2 linked regions of the Homo sapiens genome follow. The protein of the gene in region 1 interacts with the protein of each later gene in a biochemical or structural test. Each region holds a gene or a part of one and is shown on either strand. Other genes may lie near its edges.

Region 1 (3,647 bases):
CCCTGTGATTGCATGGGCTTACCTGGATAATCCAGGATAACCTCTCCATCTCCAGAGCCTTAACTTAATCACACCTGCAAAGTCTCTTTTGCTGTGTAAAGGAACCTAGTCACAGGTTCCAGGGATTAGGACATGGACATCTTTGGAGGGCCATCATTCTGTCTACCATGGAGGGATATGGGTTGGGTTTAAATGTCAGCATTCCCGAACCCAGCATGAGAAGGGAGACAGTCCCAAATTCAATATGTAAACTTTTACTGAGCCCATCAACTTTCTGTACAGTGCTTCATTCCCACTCTCAGCTGGGCCTGATATGCAAGAGTCTACTATGAGCTCTTGACTCAGTTCCTGCTAAGTGTAAAGCTCGTCTTCTGCCGGGGTGGAGGACAGTGAGGGAGAAGGAACTATGGGAGGTCTCACTGTCCTTCATACAGATCAGTCCTCTTGCTTTTGGTCTGAGACCTTACTCCTGGCTACGACTTTTTGGTGTTGCTCATGCCTGCGCCATTGTGACGTTCTGCAGTGTGAATCTGCTTGCTTCTGGCTTAGACTTTCCCCTCTATGGGCTTAGCTTCTGTTTAGACTGCTCAGCATTTTCCATTGTTCATCTGTTTTCCAACTTCCAAAATTTTATTGGTATTTCTGAGGTGGTACTTGCCTATCTCCTGTTGTCTTTATGTCTGTGGATTTGTCCTTCAACCCCAATTCTTTTCTGTCTTTTGGAGGAAAAAGGATATAACTCTCTGTGTTGAATGTACCTTGTTTATTGAGAACTTGCTTTTATGCCCTTCATGAAAGCATTGCATGTCCATACAACTTCAATCAGGCCTCCAGTCCATCTAGGATTCTCCCAAGGCAGTCCTTCCTATCAGTGGGCAGGTTTTTTTTGTTTTTTGTTTTTTTAAATTTAAGAGACAGAATCTCCCCCTCACCCAGGCTGGAGTGCAGTGGCGTGATCATAGTTCACTGCAGCCTCGAATTCCCGGACTCAAACAATCCTCCCTGGGCAGATGTTTTGAACCTTTACTACTGATGCCTCAGTTTGAGTACCAGAACTGTTTTCAAAGATGTAGACATATGCAAACTGTGAGTTCTCAGACCATTTCTGAAAGGCCAAACACTCCACGGACCACCACTCAGTTCTCCTGTAACCTTGAGAATAGACGGGAAAAGTGTGATTGTTCTGTTGAGATGGAAATGAAATTTCAAAGTGGAGAAAGGGAGAAGACAAATAGTGAGGACAAACCAGAAGTGGGAAGAGCTAGGGGCAGGAGAGCGGAGAAAGGATGCACAGAGAAGTAGAGTAAGGAAACAGGTTATTGTCTTAGGGTCCCTTTCCAAAGCCTTTCAAAATTCCAAAGGAGGGATGGCCAGTACTTGGCACCAGTCAAGTTAGGAGCTGAGTTTGAAAGAGTTAATCTCTACACTAACCCCCAAAGTATCCATTTAAACCTCATTTTATGAATGGAGAATGTAAGGCTATGAGTTGAGCATGACTGCTTAAAGTTGAAAAATTATTCAACATAGTTATTTTAAAGTCCTTGCATGATAACTTATATATCTGATCTGTGTTCCTTCTGCTTTTCAGTCATGTTTCTTTTTAAGCACGTATCCTAAGCCAACCAGCCTTTCTTTTCTTTTCTTTCTTTCTCTTTCTTTCTTTCTCTTTCTTTCTTTTTCTTTCTTTCTCTCTCTCTTTCTTTCTTCTTTCTTTCTTCCTTTTTTCTTCCTTTCCTTTCCTTTTCCTTCCTTCCTTTCCTTTCCTTTTCCTTCCTTCCTCTCTCTCTCTTTCTTCTTTCTTTCTTTCTTTCTTTCTTTCTTTCTTTCTTTCTTTCTTTCTTTCTTCTTTCTTTTCTTTCTTTCTTCTCTCTCTCTTTCATGGAGTCTTGCTCTGTCACCTAGGCTGGAGTGTAGTGGCACAATCTCAGCTCACTACAACCTCTCCCTCCTGGGTTTAAGCAATTCTCCTGCCTCAGCCTCATGAGTAGCTGGGACTACAGGCATCTGCCACCACTCCCAGCTAATTTTTTATATTTTTGGAGAGATGGAGTTTCACCATGTTTGCCAGGCTGGTCTCAAACTCCTGGCCTCAGGTGATCCACCCACCTTGGTCTCCCAAAGTGCTGGGATTACAGGGGTGAGCCCCCATGCCTGGCCCTAAGTTTTTATTTCTATCTGTCCTAGAAATATATCCAAATCTTTAACTTTTCCATCGTATCTGTGTAATCCACAAATGCAGAATTTTCCATGAGAGAGGGGATTTAAAAGATCTGGTTTGTTTCTTGAAGTGTTCTGGCACCTGTCAGACTGTGGACCTTGATTTCTGGTTCACTCTACTTGTAACTTGCAGCCTCCCTCCCTCTTCCCAGTAAAATAGATTTGCATGGTTTAATGTTAGATGACATGGACCTGAGTGATGAGATTTGAGCTGAGGAGCAGGGAAAGGGGCAGAGTAGGGGAGCTTGTCAGTGAAACTTAAGTCTCAGAAGGTAGCTTGGTGCTGAAAGACTCCCCAGGATGGGCACTAGGAGGATGCAGGCCAGCTGGGAACGGTGGTGGGAGACTGGCGGTGAACGGACACATCTCCTGCTGAATGCAGTTGGCCTTCACCTTTCTCAGTCTGCCACGCGTGATGGTGACGGGAGCTCAAGGAATACAGTGGAGGTTTGTCGCTTGGTCTCCAGCCGGGGAGGAGGCTACCAGGGAGAAGCACCTGGTATAATGCATTTAACCCAGAGTTCTTCAAGCATTTCTCATTGCTACTGAGCATGAATCTTGGTGAGGTGTTTATTCTCTGAGATCTGAGGATTTGAGCCATGAGGCACCCAACACTCAGGCTTTTCCCCTAATCTGTAGTCATTCTACAGAAACAATAGGACTGTGCCTAATTTAATAGAAAATAGATAGAAAGATATTGATGGCAAAGTGGATGAATTACATTTGGGGGAGATTTAGAGAGTAAGGAAGGAGAGTTTGAATAGTAACATGAAAGGACAGTAGGGCCAGTAAGATGTGACTTGTGGACATTTATTGTCTAAGTATGTTTTGAAGGAAGAAGGAAGTATGGGACAAGGCATTGAGGATGCAAGAAATGAAGTCACCTGGCTAAGAGAGGAAGGACTGGCTGAAGAGAGGAGAATAGAGTCTAGGGAGGAATGAGATCCAGCAAGAGATAGGGTCAGCTGGGGCATTTTCTTACCAGAGATCTGCAATCTCCTAAGACAGGTGTTCCCAACCCCTGGGCTGCAGACCAGTACCCATCCATGGCCTGTTAGGAATCGGGCTGCACAGCAGGAGGGGAGCAGTGGGCCAGTGAGCATTATGGCCTGAGCTCCGCCTCCTGTCAGATTAGCGGCAGCATTAGATTCTCATAGGAGTGGGAACCCTATTGTGAACTGCATGCAAAGGATCAAGGTTGCGTGCTCCTTATGAGAAAATAATGCCTGATGATCTGAGGTGGAACAGCTTCATCCCAAAACTATCCCCTCCACCCCATCTGTGGAAAAATTGCCTTCCACAAAGGTACCAAAAAGGTTGGGGACAGCTGGCCTAAGAAGAGTAGGAACTGAGACATCCTGCTGGAGGGACCATGGGGGTGGGAGGCAATGAACAACTGAAGAGAGATTTACATTTGTGGGGTTTCTAGA
Region 2 (3,747 bases), on another chromosome or scaffold:
TGCTCCTCTTTCCAATGTGGCCCAGCTAAATAAAACTGTTCTTTCTTATACCCACAGCAATCACTAATCGCGGCCTGTTTCCCTCCAAATTCTCCACACTGCCTCAACTTCAAGCAGAGAAACTTGCCTTCTCCAACAGATCCTGTCTTCTCCCTACTGGGTCTCCTCTAAGGAGGAGAGCACCTGAGTTCCTCTTGGGTTCACCTGGGTTTATGCTGTCCAAACTGAAACTAGTGCCACAAGTTTCTGATGGCCACAGTCTAATCAGGATCATCTGGATCATTAAAAGTGCACTATAATTAAGAATTTATTATTGGAGCTGTCATTTCAAAACATAACTGGGCAGAACAAAGTTTGACTGTGGTATCTTAAACAATACCAATTGACTTCCGGTTATGAAAGAAGCAGCATCCTGTTCTGCATGCGCAGAGGTGATGCTACTGGTCCAGAGTCAACAAGAAAGTTTTGAGTTATTCTCCTAGGAGAAGAATTGGACTTGCCCAATCCCTCCATGGACTCCTTTCTGGCCTTGGTATCCAAGGGAAGGCCAGGTTGGAAGTAAGGATGTGCTGTTATATGAGAAAACAACAAAAAAGACAGCATCACCTTCTACACTTAACATAACTATTCTCCCTTCACATGCCTGTGAAATAGGTACTACTATTTTTATTTGATAGACAAGGTAACTGAGGGTCAAAAAGCTTGATCATTCCACAGTCAATAAGTACTTACTGAGTGCCTCCCATGTGCAGGTACTGCACTAAGAGCTATGACTCTGCCCAAGGTGACACAGCTGGCAAGTAGCAAAGGGAGCACCCAATCTGTCACCTAATCTCAAGTCTATCCCATTCAATGACTGCCCCTCAGGCTAAGGTCAGTGTTTTGCCACACAACACCACAGGACAACAGAGCCAAAGAGCCTTTGTGGGATCACATGGTCCATCTCTTTAGTTTGCTCTGCTGCAAGGAAAGTCAGTATTGATTACCCTTCTCAGACTGTCTCAAATGCCTGCTGTCTCTGGGGATGAATCAAAGTAGCTTCCCACGTCACATTAGTTACAGCACTGTCTATGGTGTGCAGTCCAGAGCTGGGTGCTGGGGACTCATGCCTCCAGTGGGCAGGACAGAAACACCCCAGCAAAACACACATGAAATCCTGGGAGATAAACTTTTGCAAAGGAGTAACGGGTTCTAAAGTTTTGAGGATTTTTAGAGTAGCAGGACCAGAAGTCAAACAGTAGGATTTAGAAGGTCCTACTCCTTGGATAAAGCACTGAGATCTTCAGTTTGACTCTCTTAGGGCACCTCAAGACTCTGGGACCTATTCCTCAAGCACAGCCCTGTGGTCACCTGGTATGCATCCTGTGCCAGAGGTTTTGGAAACAATGTCTGCCATCCACTCTGACTGGGTGACCCCACTGATGAGCCTGCCACACTGTTGCATCAGAGAAGGGGCCAGTCACACACCAGGCTGCCCATCTCAAGAATGCCAAAACCTTCATGAATGGGCCATCCTGTGCCTGCAATCACAGGGAGGTGGGGCCGACAGCCACGGGTCACGTAACTGAGGCCAAACACAAGAAGCTGGCCTGGATCAATGAGTCAGGGAGAGCTCTATATATAACCTCAGGAGATCAGTGCTCCTCACATTGCCAGCATCTTCTCTCCTCACTCACCCTTCCTGGTGCTTTGGGTAAGTGTGGTTCTACTGACTCTCTCATTTTCCCAGCTGGTCTTGCCCAGGCCTGACTAGATTAGATGGACCAGGGCCTCTTTCCCCTTTGGGAGCTATAGGACCTCTGCCTTCCCAAAAGCACTCACATTTAGAGGGCGGTCAGGAAAGGAGCAGGGGATGAGCTGCTGCCATGCAGATGGTGTTTCTGGTCTTCTGGCCAGAATGTAAACTCCACAAAGACAAGACTATCTCCTGCCTCTCTGGCACCCGCATAGGGGCAGGCATGGTGCCGGGCACAGAAGGACTCTGCAGAGGCTGTCCAAGGCAGCCTGTGCACAGGCTGAGCAGACCTTGTGAACCTGTCAGGAGGAGAGGCTGAGCCACTCTCAAGAGAGTAGGGAGAATGATCCAAAAAAGTTGCAGATGGGAGGGATTTCAGGTGCCACAGAAATCCAATTGCTGTTTTACAGAGTTAGAAGTTCTGAGAGGGAAATACAACTTCCTACTAGTCAAAGTCCCTTCTACCAAACTTGGACTTGAGAAAATCATGGAAGAGATGGCTAATAGCTTCTGGTCGGGGATGTTGGTCCAAAGGACCACCAGGGTCCTTCCCCTGTTTCCAGGCAGGGCCACAGCAGAGCCTGTCTTTTCTAGTGACTAGCCCTTGGTTCATGGCCTAGCTCAGTGGGACAGACCAAGAGTTTGAACTAAGAGCTTCTGCAGAGGATGGAGTGCAACAGCCCTCAATAGAATGAAGTCCGACAAACCTCTCTCTGTTGTGCTGGGAATGGGTAAAATCTCCTATCCTAGGTAGAGGTTTGTGGTAGTTTTCTATTTGCACTCAGAGAATCAGTGTTGAGATTGGAAGAGGCCTGAAAGATGAAGTGTTCAAACCCTTTCATTTAACAGGAAATGAGAAAGAGGCGGGCGTGTGGGTGATCTGCCCTCAAATCACACAACAGTGGTCAGAGGCAGAGCTGGGAGAAAGAATGGGCACTGCTAACTGGGCTGTTTAAAGCATAATGAAGGCTTTCTGCAGGGGAATGAGGAACTCAACTTTTCCAAAAGCAGCAATCATAAGAAACCCCGCTGAGGGCTCTCCGGGCACCTGAAGGAGCCCTGGGAGGATGGCGATGTTGCCTATGGATGCAGCTGCCTCCGTAAGTATCCTCTTGCAGCTGGTCCAGCGATGCTCTCTTCTCCCCTTCCAGGCTCTCCTTCCTTCTCAGACAAGATGTCTTATCAGAAAAAGCAGCCCACCCCTCAGCCCCCAGTGGACTGCGTGAAGACCTCTGGCGGCGGTGGCGGTGGCGGCGGCAGCGGCGGTGGTGGCTGCGGCTTCTTCGGCGGCGGCGGCTCAGGGGGCGGTAGCAGCGGTTCTGGCTGCGGCTACTCCGGCGGCGGTGGCTACTCTGGCGGCGGCTGCGGCGGGGGCTCCTCCGGCGGCGGGGGCGGGGGCGGCATTGGAGGCTGCGGAGGGGGCTCCGGTGGGAGCGTCAAGTACTCCGGAGGCGGCGGCTCCTCCGGCGGGGGCTCTGGCTGTTTCTCCAGCGGTGGGGGCGGCTCCGGCTGCTTCTCCTCCGGTGGCGGCGGCTCCTCCGGGGGCGGCTCCGGCTGCTTCTCCAGCGGTGGGGGCGGCTCCTCCGGGGGCGGCTCCGGCTGCTTCTCCTCCGGCGGCGGCGGCTTCTCGGGCCAGGCGGTCCAGTGCCAGAGCTACGGAGGCGTCTCTAGCGGCGGCTCCTCCGGGGGCGGCTCCGGCTGCTTCTCCAGCGGCGGGGGCGGCGGCTCTGTCTGCGGCTACTCTGGCGGCGGCTCTGGCTGCGGCGGAGGCTCCTCTGGCGGCAGCGGCTCCGGCTACGTCTCCTCGCAGCAGGTCACTCAGACCTCGTGCGCGCCCCAGCCGAGTTACGGAGGGGGGTCGTCCGGCGGCGGCGGCAGCGGCGGAAGCGGCTGCTTCTCCAGCGGCGGGGGCGGCGGGAGCTCCGGCTGCGGCGGCGGCTCCTCCGGGATTGGCAGCGGCTGCATCATCAGTGGCGGGGGCTCCGTCTGCGGAGGTGGTTCCTCTGGAGGCG

What was found.
Region 2: the proteins of CSTA (region 1) and LORICRIN form a complex in vitro, tested with the Homo sapiens proteins (one study listed by BioGRID).

The regions. Positions count from the first base shown.
Region 1 is NC_000003.12:122,331,739-122,335,385, reverse strand, and holds part of CSTA (cystatin-A), read right to left. Parts: intron 1-3,647. UniProt on the Homo sapiens protein: This is an intracellular thiol proteinase inhibitor. Has an important role in desmosome-mediated cell-cell adhesion in the lower levels of the epidermis.
Region 2 is NC_000001.11:153,258,041-153,261,787, forward strand, and holds the start of LORICRIN (loricrin), read left to right. Parts: upstream 1-1,646; 5' UTR 1,647-1,693; intron 1,694-2,886; 5' UTR 2,887-2,909; coding exon 2,910-3,747.